Linked DNA regions of Homo sapiens: region 1 is linked to region 2. The links come from fine-mapping of genetic effects on gene expression. A gene starts in region 2. The other region holds a variant in brackets. All regions are shown on one strand. Distances are between the middles of the regions. Region 1 overlaps HFE (homeostatic iron regulator). Region 2 holds the start of H3C2 (H3 clustered histone 2).

Region 1 (5,379 bases), 58 kb after region 2:
TGAGCTGAGCTAAGCCTGGGGCTCCTTGAACCTGGAACTCGGGTTTATTTCCAATGTCAGCTGTGCAGTTTTTTCCCCAGTCATCTCCAAACAGGAAGTTCTTCCCTGAGTGCTTGCCGAGAAGGCTGAGCAAACCCACAGCAGGATCCGCACGGGGTTTCCACCTCAGAACGAATGCGTTGGGCGGTGGGGGCGCGAAAGAGTGGCGTTGGGGATCTGAATTCTTCACCATTCCACCCACTTTTGGTGAGACCTGGGGTGGAGGTCTCTAGGGTGGGAGGCTCCTGAGAGAGGCCTACCTCGGGCCTTTCCCCACTCTTGGCAATTGTTCTTTTGCCTGGAAAATTAAGTATATGTTAGTTTTGAACGTTTGAACTGAACAATTCTCTTTTCGGCTAGGCTTTATTGATTTGCAATGTGCTGTGTAATTAAGAGGCCTCTCTACAAAGTACTGATAATGAACATGTAAGCAATGCACTCACTTCTAAGTTACATTCATATCTGATCTTATTTGATTTTCACTAGGCATAGGGAGGTAGGAGCTAATAATACGTTTATTTTACTAGAAGTTAACTGGAATTCAGATTATATAACTCTTTTCAGGTTACAAAGAACATAAATAATCTGGTTTTCTGATGTTATTTCAAGTACTACAGCTGCTTCTAATCTTAGTTGACAGTGATTTTGCCCTGTAGTGTAGCACAGTGTTCTGTGGGTCACACGCCGGCCTCAGCACAGCACTTTGAGTTTTGGTACTACGTGTATCCACATTTTACACATGACAAGAATGAGGCATGGCACGGCCTGCTTCCTGGCAAATTTATTCAATGGTACACTGGGCTTTGGTGGCAGAGCTCATGTCTCCACTTCATAGCTATGATTCTTAAACATCACACTGCATTAGAGGTTGAATAATAAAATTTCATGTTGAGCAGAAATATTCATTGTTTACAAGTGTAAATGAGTCCCAGCCATGTGTTGCACTGTTCAAGCCCCAAGGGAGAGAGCAGGGAAACAAGTCTTTACCCTTTGATATTTTGCATTCTAGTGGGAGAGATGACAATAAGCAAATGAGCAGAAAGATATACAACATCAGGAAATCATGGGTGTTGTGAGAAGCAGAGAAGTCAGGGCAAGTCACTCTGGGGCTGACACTTGAGCAGAGACATGAAGGAAATAAGAATGATATTGACTGGGAGCAGTATTTCCCAGGCAAACTGAGTGGGCCTGGCAAGTTGGATTAAAAAGCGGGTTTTCTCAGCACTACTCATGTGTGTGTGTGTGGGGGGGGGGGGCGGCGTGGGGGTGGGAAGGGGGACTACCATCTGCATGTAGGATGTCTAGCAGTATCCTGTCCTCCCTACTCACTAGGTGCTAGGAGCACTCCCCCAGTCTTGACAACCAAAAATGTCTCTAAACTTTGCCACATGTCACCTAGTAGACAAACTCCTGGTTAAGAAGCTCGGGTTGAAAAAAATAAACAAGTAGTGCTGGGGAGTAGAGGCCAAGAAGTAGGTAATGGGCTCAGAAGAGGAGCCACAAACAAGGTTGTGCAGGCGCCTGTAGGCTGTGGTGTGAATTCTAGCCAAGGAGTAACAGTGATCTGTCACAGGCTTTTAAAAGATTGCTCTGGCTGCTATGTGGAAAGCAGAATGAAGGGAGCAACAGTAAAAGCAGGGAGCCCAGCCAGGAAGCTGTTACACAGTCCAGGCAAGAGGTAGTGGAGTGGGCTGGGTGGGAACAGAAAAGGGAGTGACAAACCATTGTCTCCTGAATATATTCTGAAGGAAGTTGCTGAAGGATTCTATGTTGTGTGAGAGAAAGAGAAGAATTGGCTGGGTGTAGTAGCTCATGCCAAGGAGGAGGCCAAGGAGAGCAGATTCCTGAGCTCAGGAGTTCAAGACCAGCCTGGGCAACACAGCAAAACCCCTTCTCTACAAAAAATACAAAAATTAGCTGGGTGTGGTGGCATGCACCTGTGATCCTAGCTACTCGGGAGGCTGAGGTGGAGGGTATTGCTTGAGCCCAGGAAGTTGAGGCTGCAGTGAGCCATGACTGTGCCACTGTACTTCAGCCTAGGTGACAGAGCAAGACCCTGTCTCCCCTGACCCCCTGAAAAAGAGAAGAGTTAAAGTTGACTTTGTTCTTTATTTTAATTTTATTGGCCTGAGCAGTGGGGTAATTGGCAATGCCATTTCTGAGATGGTGAAGGCAGAGGAAAGAGCAGTTTGGGGTAAATCAAGGATCTGCATTTGGACATGTTAAGTTTGAGATTCCAGTCAGGCTTCCAAGTGGTGAGGCCACATAGGCAGTTCAGTGTAAGAATTCAGGACCAAGGCTGGGCACGGTGGCTCACTTCTGTAATCCCAGCACTTTGGTGGCTGAGGCAGGTAGATCA[T/C]TTGAGGTCAGGAGTTTGAGACAAGCTTGGCCAACATGGTGAAACCCCATGTCTACTAAAAATACAAAAATTAGCCTGGTGTGGTGGCGCACGCCTATAGTCCCAGGTTTTCAGGAGGCTTAGGTAGGAGAATCCCTTGAACCCAGGAGGTGCAGGTTGCAGTGAGCTGAGATTGTGCCACTGCACTCCAGCCTGGGTGATAGAGTGAGACTCTGTCTCAAAAAAAAAAAAAAAAAAAAAAAAAAAAACTGAAGGAATTATTCCTCAGGATTTGGGTCTAATTTGCCCTGAGCACCAACTCCTGAGTTCAACTACCATGGCTAGACACACCTTAACATTTTCTAGAATCCACCAGCTTTAGTGGAGTCTGTCTAATCATGAGTATTGGAATAGGATCTGGGGGCAGTGAGGGGGTGGCAGCCACGTGTGGCAGAGAAAAGCACACAAGGAAAGAGCACCCAGGACTGTCATATGGAAGAAAGACAGGACTGCAACTCACCCTTCACAAAATGAGGACCAGACACAGCTGATGGTATGAGTTGATGCAGGTGTGTGGAGCCTCAACATCCTGCTCCCCTCCTACTACACATGGTTAAGGCCTGTTGCTCTGTCTCCAGGTTCACACTCTCTGCACTACCTCTTCATGGGTGCCTCAGAGCAGGACCTTGGTCTTTCCTTGTTTGAAGCTTTGGGCTACGTGGATGACCAGCTGTTCGTGTTCTATGATCATGAGAGTCGCCGTGTGGAGCCCCGAACTCCATGGGTTTCCAGTAGAATTTCAAGCCAGATGTGGCTGCAGCTGAGTCAGAGTCTGAAAGGGTGGGATCACATGTTCACTGTTGACTTCTGGACTATTATGGAAAATCACAACCACAGCAAGGGTATGTGGAGAGGGGGCCTCACCTTCCTGAGGTTGTCAGAGCTTTTCATCTTTTCATGCATCTTGAAGGAAACAGCTGGAAGTCTGAGGTCTTGTGGGAGCAGGGAAGAGGGAAGGAATTTGCTTCCTGAGATCATTTGGTCCTTGGGGATGGTGGAAATAGGGACCTATTCCTTTGGTTGCAGTTAACAAGGCTGGGGATTTTTCCAGAGTCCCACACCCTGCAGGTCATCCTGGGCTGTGAAATGCAAGAAGACAACAGTACCGAGGGCTACTGGAAGTACGGGTATGATGGGCAGGACCACCTTGAATTCTGCCCTGACACACTGGATTGGAGAGCAGCAGAACCCAGGGCCTGGCCCACCAAGCTGGAGTGGGAAAGGCACAAGATTCGGGCCAGGCAGAACAGGGCCTACCTGGAGAGGGACTGCCCTGCACAGCTGCAGCAGTTGCTGGAGCTGGGGAGAGGTGTTTTGGACCAACAAGGTATGGTGGAAACACACTTCTGCCCCTATACTCTAGTGGCAGAGTGGAGGAGGTTGCAGGGCACGGAATCCCTGGTTGGAGTTTCAGAGGTGGCTGAGGCTGTGTGCCTCTCCAAATTCTGGGAAGGGACTTTCTCAATCCTAGAGTCTCTACCTTATAATTGAGATGTATGAGACAGCCACAAGTCATGGGTTTAATTTCTTTTCTCCATGCATATGGCTCAAAGGGAAGTGTCTATGGCCCTTGCTTTTTATTTAACCAATAATCTTTTGTATATTTATACCTGTTAAAAATTCAGAAATGTCAAGGCCGGGCACGGTGGCTCACCCCTGTAATCCCAGCACTTTGGGAGGCCGAGGCGGGTGGTCACAAGGTCAGGAGTTTGAGACCAGCCTGACCAACATGGTGAAACCCGTCTCTAAAAAAATACAAAAATTAGCTGGTCACAGTCATGCGCACCTGTAGTCCCAGCTAATTGGAAGGCTGAGGCAGGAGCATCGCTTGAACCTGGGAAGCGGAAGTTGCACTGAGCCAAGATCGCGCCACTGCACTCCAGCCTAGGCAGCAGAGTGAGACTCCATCTTAAAAAAAAAAAAAAAAAAAAAAAGAGAATTCAGAGATCTCAGCTATCATATGAATACCAGGACAAAATATCAAGTGAGGCCACTTATCAGAGTAGAAGAATCCTTTAGGTTAAAAGTTTCTTTCATAGAACATAGCAATAATCACTGAAGCTACCTATCTTACAAGTCCGCTTCTTATAACAATGCCTCCTAGGTTGACCCAGGTGAAACTGACCATCTGTATTCAATCATTTTCAATGCACATAAAGGGCAATTTTATCTATCAGAACAAAGAACATGGGTAACAGATATGTATATTTACATGTGAGGAGAACAAGCTGATCTGACTGCTCTCCAAGTGACACTGTGTTAGAGTCCAATCTTAGGACACAAAATGGTGTCTCTCCTGTAGCTTGTTTTTTTCTGAAAAGGGTATTTCCTTCCTCCAACCTATAGAAGGAAGTGAAAGTTCCAGTCTTCCTGGCAAGGGTAAACAGATCCCCTCTCCTCATCCTTCCTCTTTCCTGTCAAGTGCCTCCTTTGGTGAAGGTGACACATCATGTGACCTCTTCAGTGACCACTCTACGGTGTCGGGCCTTGAACTACTACCCCCAGAACATCACCATGAAGTGGCTGAAGGATAAGCAGCCAATGGATGCCAAGGAGTTCGAACCTAAAGACGTATTGCCCAATGGGGATGGGACCTACCAGGGCTGGATAACCTTGGCTGTACCCCCTGGGGAAGAGCAGAGATATACGTGCCAGGTGGAGCACCCAGGCCTGGATCAGCCCCTCATTGTGATCTGGGGTATGTGACTGATGAGAGCCAGGAGCTGAGAAAATCTATTGGGGGTTGAGAGGAGTGCCTGAGGAGGTAATTATGGCAGTGAGATGAGGATCTGCTCTTTGTTAGGGGGTGGGCTGAGGGTGGCAATCAAAGGCTTTAACTTGCTTTTTCTGTTTTAGAGCCCTCACCGTCTGGCACCCTAGTCATTGGAGTCATCAGTGGAATTGCTGTTTTTGTCGTCATCTTGTTCATTGGAATTTTGTTC
Region 2 (5,379 bases):
TATTAAAATGTTTGCACTACTCACAAATACAAAATGCTCAATAAATTTTCTTTCACAAATGAGAATTTCATCCATTCGTTAATTTTTAAATATCAACTGTCAATGAAGAGTTACAGCAGAATCCTTGTTCTGTTGAGGAGGGGGCAAAGAATGTAAGTGAGGGAGTGGAAAATAGCTGGACTGAGCTACCACCCCCTGTCCATCTGATCCTCAGACAGTAATGTAACTTTATTCTTTTATGCTATTCGTCAGACCCAGTACCTCCAACACATTTGTTTCCTACAGATAAAGAAAATATAAAAAGTCAAGCGCTATACATCAGATCCAGCACATCTATAACTGGAAAAAAAATACTTGACCTTCAGCTGGGCCCAGAGCTTGTGAGTAGTCACCTTGGCATAGACCAAGTCCATTGGCATCTCTAACATATCTATACTGTCTGTGGATAACAAATGTCTATGCCAGTTAGAGTCGCTTGTATAAGAGTCAAGAAAAACGAATCATAAAACAAACTGACATATTCATTTTCATAATTTTTAAAATGCAAATATTACTTTATAAACCAAAAACTGCCTTATTAAAAGCTGGAACACAAATGAATTTAAGTAAACGATGCAATTCAAATTTAATCTTTTGTGTGTGTGATTTGTTGTTGTTGACAGTTGGTCAGGCGATTTTAGTATGGTACATCAGTTTACATTCTAGATGTAGGCCAAGAAAGAATGTTAGGTGTAAAAAATATTTATTGTAAAAAAGAATGTGAGGCAAGGTCTTTGGAATTAGTAGTTTTAATGTTGGACATTCTGTGGTTGTTCTAAAGTTAGTCTGTAAAATGTGATGTAAAAGCTATATGATAAAAAAATACAAAATATAAAAATTTTAAAGTAAATATTACTTTTGTTTGCGTACAGTATTCCCATCCCTCTAAATTTTCTTCCAGTACTCAATCCCCAACCTCCAAAACCGAAAAGCAAGATCAACAGAAAGAAAATGGTTAAAACTTGTAAATTCTAGATTTTAATAACTACAGGCAAGAAGTACTGAAAAAAAGAATGTGGCATGTCATGGTGCATAGTCCTAGAGGAGACAAAGCAATGCAACCAGATAGACTATTTACAAGCAAAGCCACACATATAAAAATTCATATATAAGGGATTAAATTATGCTTGGTCGACAGACTGACAGATTTAAAGTGGGTAGCTAGCTATGGATAAAATGAGAGCCAGTTAGATCCCTGCCTCACATTTTGCACCAGAATAAATTTCAGGTTAATGTTAACAGCCAAATGAATTTAACAGTATATATATATATATATATATATATAATATATGAGAAAACCTAGGGGACTATGTATTGAGCTGAGAAAATCTTCCTAAGCATTTTGAGGAAGACACTGGAACTCGCAAGACACAATTTTCTAATCTTTTCAAAGCTTTGCAAAAATGCCTAGTAAGCGCCAGTTAACTACTTACCAGATTTTTCCCTTACTCTTACAAAGTTGTTTAAACAAATGCTAATCATAGCAAGCTAGAGGCCTGAATGATAGTGGACTTACACAGCTTCTCTCCAAATAGCACCTTAATAAGGTCAGAAATAACCTACACTGCAAGACTGACCAAACCGTTATTTCTGTTAATCAACTTTAAGACCATAGTCTAATGCTTTCCGGGGGGGTCCTTAGAAATTTGTTCTGTTAAGACAACAAAAAATTATCACAGCTACTTTCGTTGGAATAAGTGGGTGGCTCTGAAAAGAGCCTTTGGGTTTTAAGACTGATGAAAAAGTGACTTTACATTTACGCTCTTTCTCCGCGAATGCGGCGAGCGAGCTGGATGTCTTTGGGCATAATAGTCACTCGCTTAGCATGGATGGCGCAAAGGTTTGTGTCCTCAAAGAGCCCTACCAAGTAGGCCTCACAAGCCTCCTGCAGCGCCATCACCGCAGAGCTCTGGAAGCGAAGATCGGTCTTGAAGTCTTGGGCGATTTCTCGCACCAGGCGCTGGAACGGCAGCTTCCGAATCAGCAACTCGGTCGACTTTTGGTAGCGGCGGATCTCGCGCAGAGCCACAGTGCCCGGGCGGTAACGGTGAGGCTTTTTCACGCCGCCGGTAGCCGGCGCGCTCTTGCGAGCAGCCTTGGTAGCCAGCTGCTTGCGTGGCGCTTTACCGCCGGTGGATTTCCGAGCTGTCTGTTTAGTACGAGCCATGGCAAAACCACAGAAAAGCTTGCCTGCAGAGACGTCTGTGGAGGAAAGGAAAGAGCTACTCTTCTTTTATAGAGTCAGACCACCAACTATTGGACCCAAGAAAATTCAAAAATCCCCGCGCCCTTCTTGGATTGGTCCATCTCTGTGCCTGGTTGCAGATTAAGAGAGGCTCCTGCCCATTACCGTAGCTACTCTGACGTCATTTTGTTAACCCCTTAGCTGCTATATCCACTGTGGACAAGTCTTGTACTGGAAAAGTTTCCTGAAGTCTTAAAATTTACAACCACACAAAGCAACGCGGAAACCTCCAATTGTTTCTAGTTAAAATATAAAAAAGAAATCAGAGAATATTGGAGACGATTAGGGAAATTTGCATATGCGCTTTATTTAAAATTGTATTTTTCTGGGTGTCGCATAAGAAGTGTGGGCAATTAGAAAAATGCTCTTAGCCGGGCGTGGCGGCTCTCGCCTGTAATCCCAGCTACTCAGAAGGCTGTCAAGAGGATCGCTTGAGCCCGAGTTCGAGGTTACAGTGAGCTGTTATCACGCCGCTGCACTGCAGCTTGGGCGAGAGGGAGACTCCACCCCAAAACAAAGCAAAACATCCCCAAACTGGAAAAAAGCTCATTTTGGGAAATACATACTCAAATGTTCAGTGGTAATGTGTGTGCTCTCAATTGTGTATGCCATTAATTGCTACAGCAAATGGTATGACATATTCAAACTTGTGTGGGGCATGCGGGTTTTAACACTTCCATTCAAGATAGTTAGGAATGCACTCATGGGTATAATTTCCTTCCTCTAAAATGTAGTAACTGCTGTGTGTGAAACTTAACGCGAATCACCCCTGTAAACATGTTTTGTGCTGCATGGCACTTCTCCCACATACCTAGAATTCCTGAGGTTTCTATGGATCTAATTTCTGCAGGACAAATTACTAAAAGTGCCACACTCAAAGCCATTAAAAACACCTCAAAAACATCTTTATGGGCGGCATAATCCAAAGCACAACAGCTCATTTAATGGAAGTCGTAGGTGGCTCTGAAAAGAGCCTTTGCTGTTAGGCTGATTTTGTCTGCTGACAGAAAAACAGCAGTGCATGAAGCGTTAACTCTTCACTTTCCCTTGGCCTTATGATGGCTCTCAGTTTTCTTAGGCAGCAGCACCGCCTGAATATTAGGCAAAACGCCACCCTGCGCGATGGTCACACGCCCCAAGAGTTTATTAAGCTCCTCGTCATTGCGGATGGCCAATTGCAGGTGGCGCGGGATGATGCGGGTCTTCTTGTTGTCGCGGGCCGCATTGCCCGCCAGCTCCAGGATCTCGGCGGTCAGGTACTCAAGCACCGCCGCGAGATACACCGGCGCGCCAGCCCCGACGCGCTCGGAGTAGTTGCCTTTGCGGAGCAGGCGGTGCACTCGGCCCACAGGAAACTGCAAACCTGCACGAGAAGACCGAGTCTTAGCCTTGGCGCGAGCTTTACCGCCTTGTTTGCCGCGACCAGACATAACTACTTCTGATAAGGGAAAATCGCCACAAGAAAATGTAATGAAACTACATTAGAACGCAAGGCAGAGAAGTATTTATACTGACTGGAGGTAGGCTGTGAGGAATTCTCCCATTGGCTAATGTCAAATACCCAATGGGAAATCAGAATCTGCATCCTTCATTTGCATGTAATCCTTCCGTCTGGTGTAAGGTTTATGTTTGACCCAATCCCCAGTCTGGCTTGACGAGCCTTCGACTTGAATACTAATAATAATTGGCCGAATTAGGATTTTGTCAAAATACCTTTTTTAAGCATGAGTGGAGGTTTTGTTCTGGTTATTTTGACTTTCAGCCGCTCGTGCTTTTCCCGGATTGTGACTCATGTTTTTGGAAAGGAGTGGACTCCGACCAATTTCTAAATAGATATTTAAGAGGTCCTTCAAATCGGGCGCAGTGGCTCATGCCCGTAATACCAGCACTTTGGGAGGCCGAGGACGGCGGGTCAGGCGTTCGAGACCAGCGTGGACAACATGGAGAAACCCTGTCTCCAGTAAAATAACCAAAAAAGAAACGGGGGAGAAAAAGAAAAAAAAAAGCCGGGCTTGGTAGTGCACGCCTGTAGTTCCAGTTACTCGAGAAGCTGAGGTGGGAGGATCGCTTGAACCCGAGAGGAGGAGGTTGCAGTGAGTTCACATAGAGCCACCACACTCCAGCGTGGGCGACAGAGCCAGAAGACTGTGTCTCAAAGACAAAAAAAGGGGAGGGGGAGTGGGAGGGAAGAAAAGCGAATACCCCAAATCCCAGTGAACTGTAGAAGCTTATAAGCTCTCTTGATTCATAAGGGAGAAAGAAGGGGGATGTAGGCAACTTAGGGGAGAGTATATGATTTTGGAGAAAAATAAATGGGTGTTTCAAAGAATAGGTGACAGCTGTGACAAAGTCTGTTTAGATGGTGTTAACCACCAGTCTCCTCTCCTGTGATACAGTTAATCTTCTCTGGTTGATGAGATTCCCCAGGGAAGTGAATCTTAACAACTAAATTCCTTTTTGAATTTTTTTTTAATTTTCAAATTTTTGATTAGAGTTCAGCGAAAGCCCTTCCTTGAATTTACTGTTTCCTAGGTGCCCTCAGTTCAAAGAAATCAGCGTAACAAAGTGGCACATTTTTGAGTTGCATTTCCTGAACTTTTTCACAACACTGAATGAGGAGTCTCTGGAATCTTTCAGGAAATGAGAGAACAAACATTCCATAACACAGAAATACTCAAAATGGGATTATGATTATAAAAGTGTTTCACTGACCACCTTCTGCCTTCCTGTCTGTAAGTCCCATTCTCCCCAAAGTCTAGCCATAGAAACCAGAATTCCTCCTCAAGGTAGGCCATACAAACCAGAACTCCTTTTCCCTAGAACCAGCCATAAAACCTAAAAGTATTACTCTAACCTACCTTGTTTGCCTGTAGGTCATAAGACCCCCCATTCTAAAAGAGAGTCTTGTCCTATAACCAGAAGGAAGAAATGCTGCACTGAGAGGTCAAGAAGAATCTTGACAGACAAGCCTTGCGGGGCTTCCCCACTCAGTCTGTTAGCATTAGATCGTACCCTATACAGCTGTTTATCTTGTTGAACCTAAGCATAAAAATGGGCAATTTCCCCTGTATCTTTCAGTCTTAATTCTAAAATCT

Evidence for each region.
Region 1: its variant is fine-mapped to the expression of H3C2 in whole blood (INTERVAL, PIP above 0.99).

What each region holds. Positions count from the first base shown.
Region 1 is chr6:26,087,826-26,093,204 of GRCh38, forward strand. It overlaps HFE (homeostatic iron regulator), which reads left to right. Exons shown (of 6, transcript NM_000410.4): 2 at 3,016-3,279; 3 at 3,489-3,764; 4 at 4,860-5,135; 5 at 5,294-5,379. It also overlaps HFE-AS1. Among named protein-coding and RNA genes, the nearest start is that of HFE, 3.1 kb to the left of the region's middle. The variant T/C (reference allele first, on the strand shown) is at 2,399.
Region 2 is chr6:26,029,855-26,035,233 of GRCh38, forward strand. It overlaps H3C2 (H3 clustered histone 2), which reads right to left and starts at 2,245. Exons shown (of 1, transcript NM_003537.4): 1 at 1,735-2,245. The coding sequence starts at 2,206. The coding sequence ends at 1,796. H2AC4 (H2A clustered histone 4) reads right to left here and starts at 3,764. Exons shown (of 1, transcript NM_003513.3): 1 at 3,238-3,764. The coding sequence starts at 3,714. The coding sequence ends at 3,322. RefSeq lists enhancers at 1,882-2,111, 2,152-2,271, 3,209-3,838, 4,142-4,201, 4,242-4,291 and 1 more and a silencer at 3,622-3,721.